2 separate regions of the Homo sapiens genome follow, and region 1 is linked to region 2. A link means that fine-mapping ties the variant in region 2 to the expression of a gene that starts in the linked region. Tissue or cell type: CD4 T cells. Region 2 holds a variant in brackets; the other region holds the start of a gene. All regions are shown on one strand. Distances are from middle to middle.

The links. PIP is the estimated chance that this variant, and not a neighbour inherited with it, causes the effect.
Region 1: it holds the start of ALDH7A1, and the variant in region 2 is the best candidate, but not a certain one, in a credible set for the expression of ALDH7A1 in CD4 T cells (CEDAR, PIP 0.54).

What each region holds. Positions count from the first base shown.
Region 1 is chr5:126,593,336-126,597,577 of GRCh38, forward strand. ALDH7A1 (aldehyde dehydrogenase 7 family member A1) reads right to left here and starts at 1,884. Exons shown (of 18, transcript NM_001182.5): 1 at 1,672-1,884; 2 at 16-69. The coding sequence starts at 1,863. RefSeq lists a silencer at 4,188-4,242.
Region 2 is chr5:126,767,681-126,771,922 of GRCh38, forward strand. The region is part of intron 1 of LMNB1-DT (LMNB1 divergent transcript); the gene reads right to left. Among named protein-coding and RNA genes, the nearest start is that of LMNB1-DT, 6.7 kb to the right of the region's middle. The variant C/CT (reference allele first, on the strand shown) is at 2,548.

The DNA.
Region 1 (4,242 bases), 170 kb before region 2:
CACACACACTCTTACCTGTCGGACTCTTGCTATTGGCTCGTTGTTAGCAGGGCAATAGGTCGTAATAACCTTAAAACAAAAGGATGATGATCATGTATAGAAAACGTAATCCCTTTTGAAGTAAGGGAATAGACCAAACGGGGAAGAAAAACAAGAGAGGAAAAAATGATATAATACCCAAACTCAAAAAGCTTAGGTTAACTTCTGTTACATATAAACCACTCTACAGAGGTTGTCTTTCATTTCTGACTTAAACATTAGAAACTACCTTTCTGCAAAACTCGCCTCTGACATCTCAATATTAGGCATATAAACAAAAGCCTTAACATAAGCAGTTATTTTGTCTCTTTTTCCATTAATAACAGACCAAACTGACTAGTTTTAGTTATTTCTTCTCTTCCTTACTCTGCCCACCCTCTGCTCAGAGATGAAATGGCCAAGGCAGGAAAACTGTTGGAAAGTCCCGTGTCCACACCAACTGGAGAGGTCTCAGGTCAACAATGAAAGGGAAAATCAAGGCACAGCTAAAAAGGCCTCCAAGAGCCTAATGATCAGATACCACACGGAAATCAGGATGAAACACCGAGGTCTGAGGAGCAATTAAAATTATCTGTATCTCCTACAGCCACTGATTACCAAAAGACGTGTTCCCTCTACCAAGGCAGGTTCATTATATAATATACAACGTCCAACAAAGTTTGTTAACTGTTACATAACATCCTCCTATAAAAAACTTTCTTTTAAAAAAAAATCTGGGCGATAATAACCTTACCTTTCCATTGTATTCTATAAAACATTGTTTTGAGCAGTAATGGGTATCAGGCGCGGTGTTAAGCCCTGGGCAATGGAGAAATGCTGAAAATCCAGTCCTCAAAGGAGTTCACAGCCCAACGTACAACATGGCAAGATTTCGGCACGTCCAAGCTTGCAAACTCCCAAAGAATTCAGGAAGGAAGATAACTTAAAACTACACTGAAGAACGTTACCTGCGGTGCACGTCACAGCTGAAGAGCCAGAGTTAAGCTCTAAATTAAGATCAGTTGCACCGCTCAGTGTGCCACATTTCTCACAAGACCATAGATCCCAAGACCATAAGGTTTTAATTTTTTTTTTTTTTTTTTTTTTTGAGACGGAATTTCGCTCTTGTTGCTCAGGCTGGAGTGCAATGGCACGATCTCGGCTCACTACGACCTCCACCTCCCGGGTTCAAGCGATTCTCCTGCCTCAGCCTCCCTAGTAGCTGGGATTACAGGCATGCGCCACCACGCCCGGCTATTTTGTATTTTTTTTAGTAGAGACAAGGTTTCTCCATGTCGGTCAGGCTGGTCTTGAACTCGCTACCTCAGGTGATCCGCCCGCCTAGGCCTCCCAAAGTGCTGGGATTACAGGGGTGAGCCACCGCGCCCGGTAGACCATAATGTTTTAAATATGCGCGGGAAGTTTAGCCCCTACAGCTCCAAAATGACGTCGATTCTGCATAGCACACAAGGACCTAAAATCTAAGTTTTTGTTTTAAAGGCACCCTACACGAGAAAACTTTTACTGTGGAGCTTCAAAATCTCCCATGCTACTACCGCATCCAGCGCCAGCGGGGAGTCGGTAGGTCAGTGCCCGCCCGGCCTCCTCGAGCGAGCCCCGGCGGCTGCAGAGATTTCTTGAGCGCCCGCGTACCTCTCCCCGGCCTCCCCAGCTTCCATTATACACGCCCTCGTTTTCCTCGCGGAGCCCCAGCTCTTTCAGCCACGCATACTGGGGCTGATTGATGAGGAGAGTGGACATGAAGGCGGCAGGCCTGCTCCAAGGTCCAGAGAGCTTGCTGGTCTTTGCAGCGTGCACACACAGCGCGCGAGGAAGGCGCCACATACTGAGCCCGGGACTCGGGATGAGCCCAAGGCCCTGAGAGCTGCTGAAATAGAGCCCCGCCCCCCGCCCGGGAGAACCCATTGGGCAGACCCGACCCCTCCCACTGGGCACGACCCCGCCACCGCCCCGTCTGCCCCTGGTCTTCCGGAGGAGCCTGCGGCTGAATCCTGCCTGGAACAATGGGAGTGCTACAGGGAGGAGTGGGCTGCTGCCATCTGGTGAAAGACTCCGGGAGCCACAGTTCCAGCTGGGAATTCTTTTCAGCAAAATATTGGCGCTGAAGTACAGTAGGCTATAGCAGGGGTTCTGAAACTGTAAAATGCGTGTAATGACCTGGTCGTCGTGGTAAATGCACATTCTGATTCAGTAAGTCTGGGCTAGGGTCGGAGAGCCGACATTCCTAACCAGCTCCTCAGCGATGGTGACGCCTCTTGTCCCTGGAGTAGGCAACGGAGGGTTTGTATTGGGGGGCGGGGGAAGGGTTGGTTGTTTTCACTGTTTTGGTAGATTACAAATTAAAGTTTTCTAATTAATGATAAATATTAGATTGCTGCATTTCCTCTATAAATATCCTGCCTGGGTATATTCTTACTTTTTTTTTTTTTTTTTTTTTTTGGAAACGGAGTTTCGCTCTTCTTGCCCAAGCTAGAGTGCAACGGCGCGATCTCGGCTCACTGCAACCTCCGCCTACCGGGTTCAAGCGGATTCTCTTGCCTCAGCCTCCTGAGTAGCTGGGATTACAGGTGTGCACCACCACACCCGGCTAATTTTTTGTATTTTTAGGACAAACGGGGTTTCACCATGTTAGTCAGGCTGGTCTGGAACTCCTGACCTGAGATGATCTGCCCGCCTCAGCCTCCGAAAGTGCTGGGATTAGAGACATGAGCCACTGCGCCCGGCCTCTTACTTTTTTTTTTTTAAGATGGAGTCTCGCCCTATCGCCCAGGCTGGAGTGCAATGGCACGATCTCCACTCACTGCAACTTCAACCTCCCAGGTTCAAGTGATTCTCCTGCCTCAGCCTCCCCAGTAGCTGGGATTACAGGTGCACACCACCACACCAGCTAATTTTTGTATTTTTAGTAGAGACGGGGTTTCTCCCTGTTGGCCAGGCTGCTCTCGAACTCCTGACCTCGTGATCTGCCCGCCTCTGCCTCCCAAAGTGCTGGGATTACAGGCGTGAGCCACTGTGTCCGGCCTATTCTTACATTTTTTTTTTTTTTTTGAGACGTAGTCTCGCACTGTTGCCAGGGCTGGAGTCCAGTGGCGCAATCTCGGCTCACTGCAACCTCCGCCTCCCGGGTTCACGCGATTCTCCTTGCCTCAGCCTCCTGCGTAGCTGGGATTACAGGCGCCCACCACCACGCTTGGCCAATTTTTTGTATTTTGAGTAGAGAAGGGGTTTCACTATGTTGGCCAGACTGGTCTCGAATTCCTGACCTCGTGATCCGCCCACCTCAGCCTCCCAAAGTGCTGGGATTACAGGTGTGAGCCACCACGCCCAGCTCTTACTCTTAAAGAATAAAGACAGTTTTGATCAATTTCTTTCATTCTCCATTTCTGTCTTCCTACAATATCCTTTCCATTCATGCATGCCCCATCTCATTTCACAACAACTGGGCCTACCCTGTAAAACGGAAATACTAATATCTCAATCATCATTATTTGAACATGAGTTTAAAATATGCTTGCCCACGCTAGAGTGCAGTGGCAGGATCATGGCTTACTGAAGCCTCGACCTCCGAGGCTCTAGTGATCCTCCTACCTCAACCTCCCAAGTAGCTGGGACTACAGGCATGCCATCACACCCAGCTAATTTTTGAGGATTTTTTGTAGAGACAGGGTTCCCCCATGTTGCCCAGGCTGGTCCGCACCTCCTCGGCTCAAGGGATCTGCCTTGCGCCTCCCAAAGAGCTGGGATTACAGGCTTGAGCCACCACTCCTGGCCCCTTTCATCTCTGCATTCAAACATAAGCTTTATCTCTTCCACCCTTATAGTACAAATGATTTGAACAAACACTCTGCATGTATCAAGCAGCTACCAGAAACTGCAGTTAGTACTAGGCATACATGAATGATGCTTCCTTTTGTAAATGCTACAGTTTTTTCCTGTTAGGGCAAGGACCATCTCTGACTCATCTTTGCATTGCTCCACAGTTCCTAGCATTGTTCCAAGTTTACGCTCACTTACATGAGTATATGAACAAATGAACCAATGAATAACACCGTCGAAGGAGTTGCAATGCCCTATCTGACATTGGTAATCTCTATCAACAACCCTGCTGCTGTCTTCCATCTACACGGAGGACCATGGTGCTAATTTTTCTAATTTTAATTCTCAGACTTTATTTATTTATTTATTTATTTATTTAGAGACGGA
Region 2 (4,242 bases):
AATCCGAGCACTTTGGGAGGCCGAGGTGGGTGGATCACGAGGTCAGGAGATTGAGACCATCCTGGCTAACACGGTGAAACCCCATCTCTACTAAAAATACAAAAAAATTAGCCGGGTGTGGTGGCAGGCACCTGTCGTCCCAGCTACTTGGGAGGCTGAGGCAGGAGAACGGCGTCAACCCCGGAAGCAGAGCTTGCAGTGAGCAGAGATTGCGCCACTGCACTCCAGCCTAGGCGACAGAGCAAGACTCCGTCTCAAAAAAAAAAAAAAAAAAAAAAAAAAAAAGAGATTCTCCTACCTCAGCCACCCCAGTAGCTGAGATTACAGGCACCCGCCACCATGCCTGGCTAATTTGTTGTTGTTGTTGTTGTTAAATTTTAGTAGAGATGGGGTTTCACCACGTTGGTCAGGCTGGAGAACTGTCAAACAATTTCTGAAGTGGTTGTACTATTTTACACTCCCATCAATAGTATATAAAAGTTTCAGTTGCTCCTGTACTCTGTATGTAAATTGGAGAGGTCCCTATTTACTTTTCAGTGTCATCTCTTTTCAGAGACTTTAACAGAATGTATTTTGTAGCATTAAATTCCAAGTATGTGGGCAACCAAATCCTGGATAATTCTTGCCCAGTTACCAATATAAATTCTCAACATACACAAATACAATATTTCATACAAAAGATAGTCATCTCATTTTATGTGATAGTTTTATTCCTGAAAAACTTATAAAGCTAATTTGTGTAATTCAAATCATTAACTGAATGCATCTTCCCCTACTTCCATGTCCAGTTCAAATGGTCCTCTTGCAGGATGTTCTATCATGTTGTCCTGAACTGAAGTGATTCCTTCTTTAAATTTTAGCAGTTTCAGCCGGGCGCGGTGGCTCACGCCTGTAATCCCAGCACTTTGGGAGGCCGAGGCAGGCGGATCACAAGGTCAGGAGATCAAGACCATCCTGGCTAACACGGTGAAACACCGTCTCTACTAAAAAGCACAAAAAATTAGCCAGGTGTGGTGGCGGGCGCCTGTAGTCGCAGCTACTCGGGAGGCTGAGGCAGGAGAATGGCGTGAACCCGGGAGGCGGAGCTTGTAGTGAGCGGAGATCGCACCATTGCACTCCAGCCTGGGCAACAGAGCCAAACTCTGTCTTAAAAAAAAAAAAAAAATTTAGCAGTTTCAGTGATTTGACACTTGTCATCAATGTCAGTTCTTTGGGCCTTCATAATTTATGGCATCATTGCTTACCCTATTTAATCACATGTAAACATTTTATTTCCACACACACACACACACACACACACAAACAATACAGTGCCTTCACTGAAGGAAGGAACTATATCTTATACTTAAAAACAAACAAACAAACAAAACAAAAAACTCCTAGGCCAGGCATGGTGGCTCATGTCTGTTATCCCAGCACTTTGGGAGGCCAAGGTGGAGGATTGCCTGAGCCCAGGAGTTAGAGACCACCCTGGGCAACATGGTAAGATCTCATTTCTTTTCAAATTTGAAACAAAACAAAACAAAATTCAGTCATCCAGTGGAGTGTCTTGCACATAGGAGGTACTCTAGCATTTCTTGCTTCATTGGTTTTTCTGTTTTTGTTTTGCTTTAGGCAAGGTACAACTGTTGTTTTTTTTTTTTTTTTTTTTGAGACGGAGTCTCACTCTGTTGCCCAGGCTGGAGTGCAGTGGCACGATCTCGGCTCACTGCAAGCTCTGCCTCCCAGGTTCACGCCATTCTCCTGCCTCAGCCTCCCGAGTAGCTGGGACTACAGGCACCCGCCACCACGCCCAGCTAGTTTTTTGTAATTTTAGTAAAAATGGGGTTTCACCGTGTTGGCCAAGATGGTCTCAATCTCCTGACCTCGTGATCCACCCTCCTCGGCCTCCCAAAGTGCTGGGATTACAGGTGAGAGCCACCACGTCCGGCCTTTAGGCAAGGCATAACTGTTATGACAGCTTAAGTAAATTATATGCTTTTTAAAAATTATATGGTAATTTTCTCAATTTTCCATTTTTCTTGACTAGTGTAAGCCAGACCTAAGTTAAGATTATTGACTAAAATACACTTCTCTTACCACTTTACAAATTCCTAGTTTAAACCACCTCCTGCTTGGTGTGGTTTGAAATAAAAAGCACACCATAAGGAATTAGAGATTCTGTCTGGGGTTTCCCTCTAATTCTCCCTGGGGGCTGTGGGTTGCCATTTACAGCCCTCCACAAGGTTTTGAGTCCTTTTGCCAGTCCCTGAAGGCTGATATTCTCAGAAGCCCAGCTTAGAGATCATCTTGTCTGCTCCCTCCTCCTGCACACAGAAACTTGCTCCATCCTTAACATGCCTACACCGCTTTGTTCATGCCTGTTTAGTACTTGACATTTTGAGGCATAATTTATTATATACATGTTTGCCTGCCCATAGCTGGACCGTTGAGCTTCTCCAAGCAGGGATCATGTACCTTAGACATTCCTTGCTTGGCATGTAGTAAGTGTTCAACAAATGTTTGTTGAATAAATGCACGGATTAATGAGTGAGCAAATAAATATGA[C/CT]TTTTTTTTTTTTTTTTTTTGAGACAGAGTTTTGCTCTTGTTGCCCAGGTTGAGTATAGTGGCATGATCCCGGCCCCACTGCAGCCTCTGCCTCCTGGGTTCAAGTGATGCTCCTGCCTCAGCCTCCCAATTAGCTGGGATTATAGGTGCTCACCAGCATGCCCGGCTAATTTTTATATTTTTAGTAGAGACGGGGTTTCACCATGTTGGCCAGGCTGGTCTCGAGCTCCTGACCTCAGGTGATCTGCCCACCTTGGCCTCCCAAAGTGCTGGGATTACAGGTGTGAGCCACCGCATCTGGCCAGTTTTTCTAAAATATGTGAATCTCTGGGCATTTAGGCCTGAAGGAGACTAGTTTCTCTTATTCAAGCTCCATGAAGTAGATATACATATGGTATGTTGTTTTTGTTTGTTCAGCCTCTTCTTATCCCTTTTAGGATGAATTCCTCATTCTTGTGGGAATCCCATGTGGTTCGTTGTCACTTGACTCTCCTTCACCCCTATTTCTTTTTTCTTTGAGATGGAGTCTTGCTTCATTGCCCAGGCTGGAGTACAATGGCGTGATCTCGGCTTACTACCACCTCTGCCTCCCGGGTTCAAGCAATTCTCCTGCCTCAGCCTCCTAAGTGTCTGGGATTACAGGCACCTGCCACCACACTCAGCTAATTTTTGTATTTTTAGTAGAGATGGGGATTCGCCATGTTGGCCAGGCTGGTCTCGAACTCCTGACCTCAGTTGATCTGCCCGCCTTGGCCTCCCAAAGTCATGGGATTACAGGCGTCAGCCACTGCTCCCGGTCATTCACCCCTATTTTTTTTTTAATTTTAAAATTTTTGTTCTTACTCTCAGAATTTAAAACCCCTACCTATAAAGAAAAAAAAAAGGAAAACAAGTTTGAGCAGTATAAAAACTTCAGGTGGCTGTGCTACCTGAATCCTCTTAAAGATGGTAAATATACTTTAAAACTCCTAAGCTTTTTTTTTTAACATGAAAATCAAAATCAGACTTGGAAGACATTCTGGATAGTCACTCAACCTTCTAAAACATGATGTCTACACTTTTATAATAACTGGAAAAAGTATCAAGTTTGTAAAATATATTTAGTCGAACAATCTGTTCCAGGAGAAGATCATGTATTCAGTTATTTCTTCATTCATCCATTCAGCAAACATATATTGAAGAGATACCATTTAGCAATTTTTTATTTCATTTTGTGTCGCAGTCCTAGCTATCCTATTTGTTTGCAATGTATACTCAATTTATCTGCCAGCTGTCACTCCCCTCTCCCAAGACAAAAGTGGGTTACTGCTAAGCTTTCAGTCTCTCCTCCCCATTCCTTCTCACCCCATCCTAGTATGGCCCCTTCTCCCCAGATGTCTTATGTATCATATATTTTTCTGTCCCAGATCCAAATGACATACATAAAGTAGGACAAATGTCAATTAAGTTCTTTACATGTAGTGAGGTAGTTGTAGGAGGAGTATGGACAAGGGAAAATGATGGCATGGCATTTTGAGACTTGGTGGGGATATATATGGTCTAACCAATAATCAGGACATGTGCCCTGACAAGTAAATGGAGGTGTATAGTAAAAACAAAGGCAGGATATTTGAAATCACCACTATCCTAGTAAATGCAGAAGTGTTGTCACCAAATTTACAAATTTGTTACTTCTAATTCATTGGGGAAAACTTT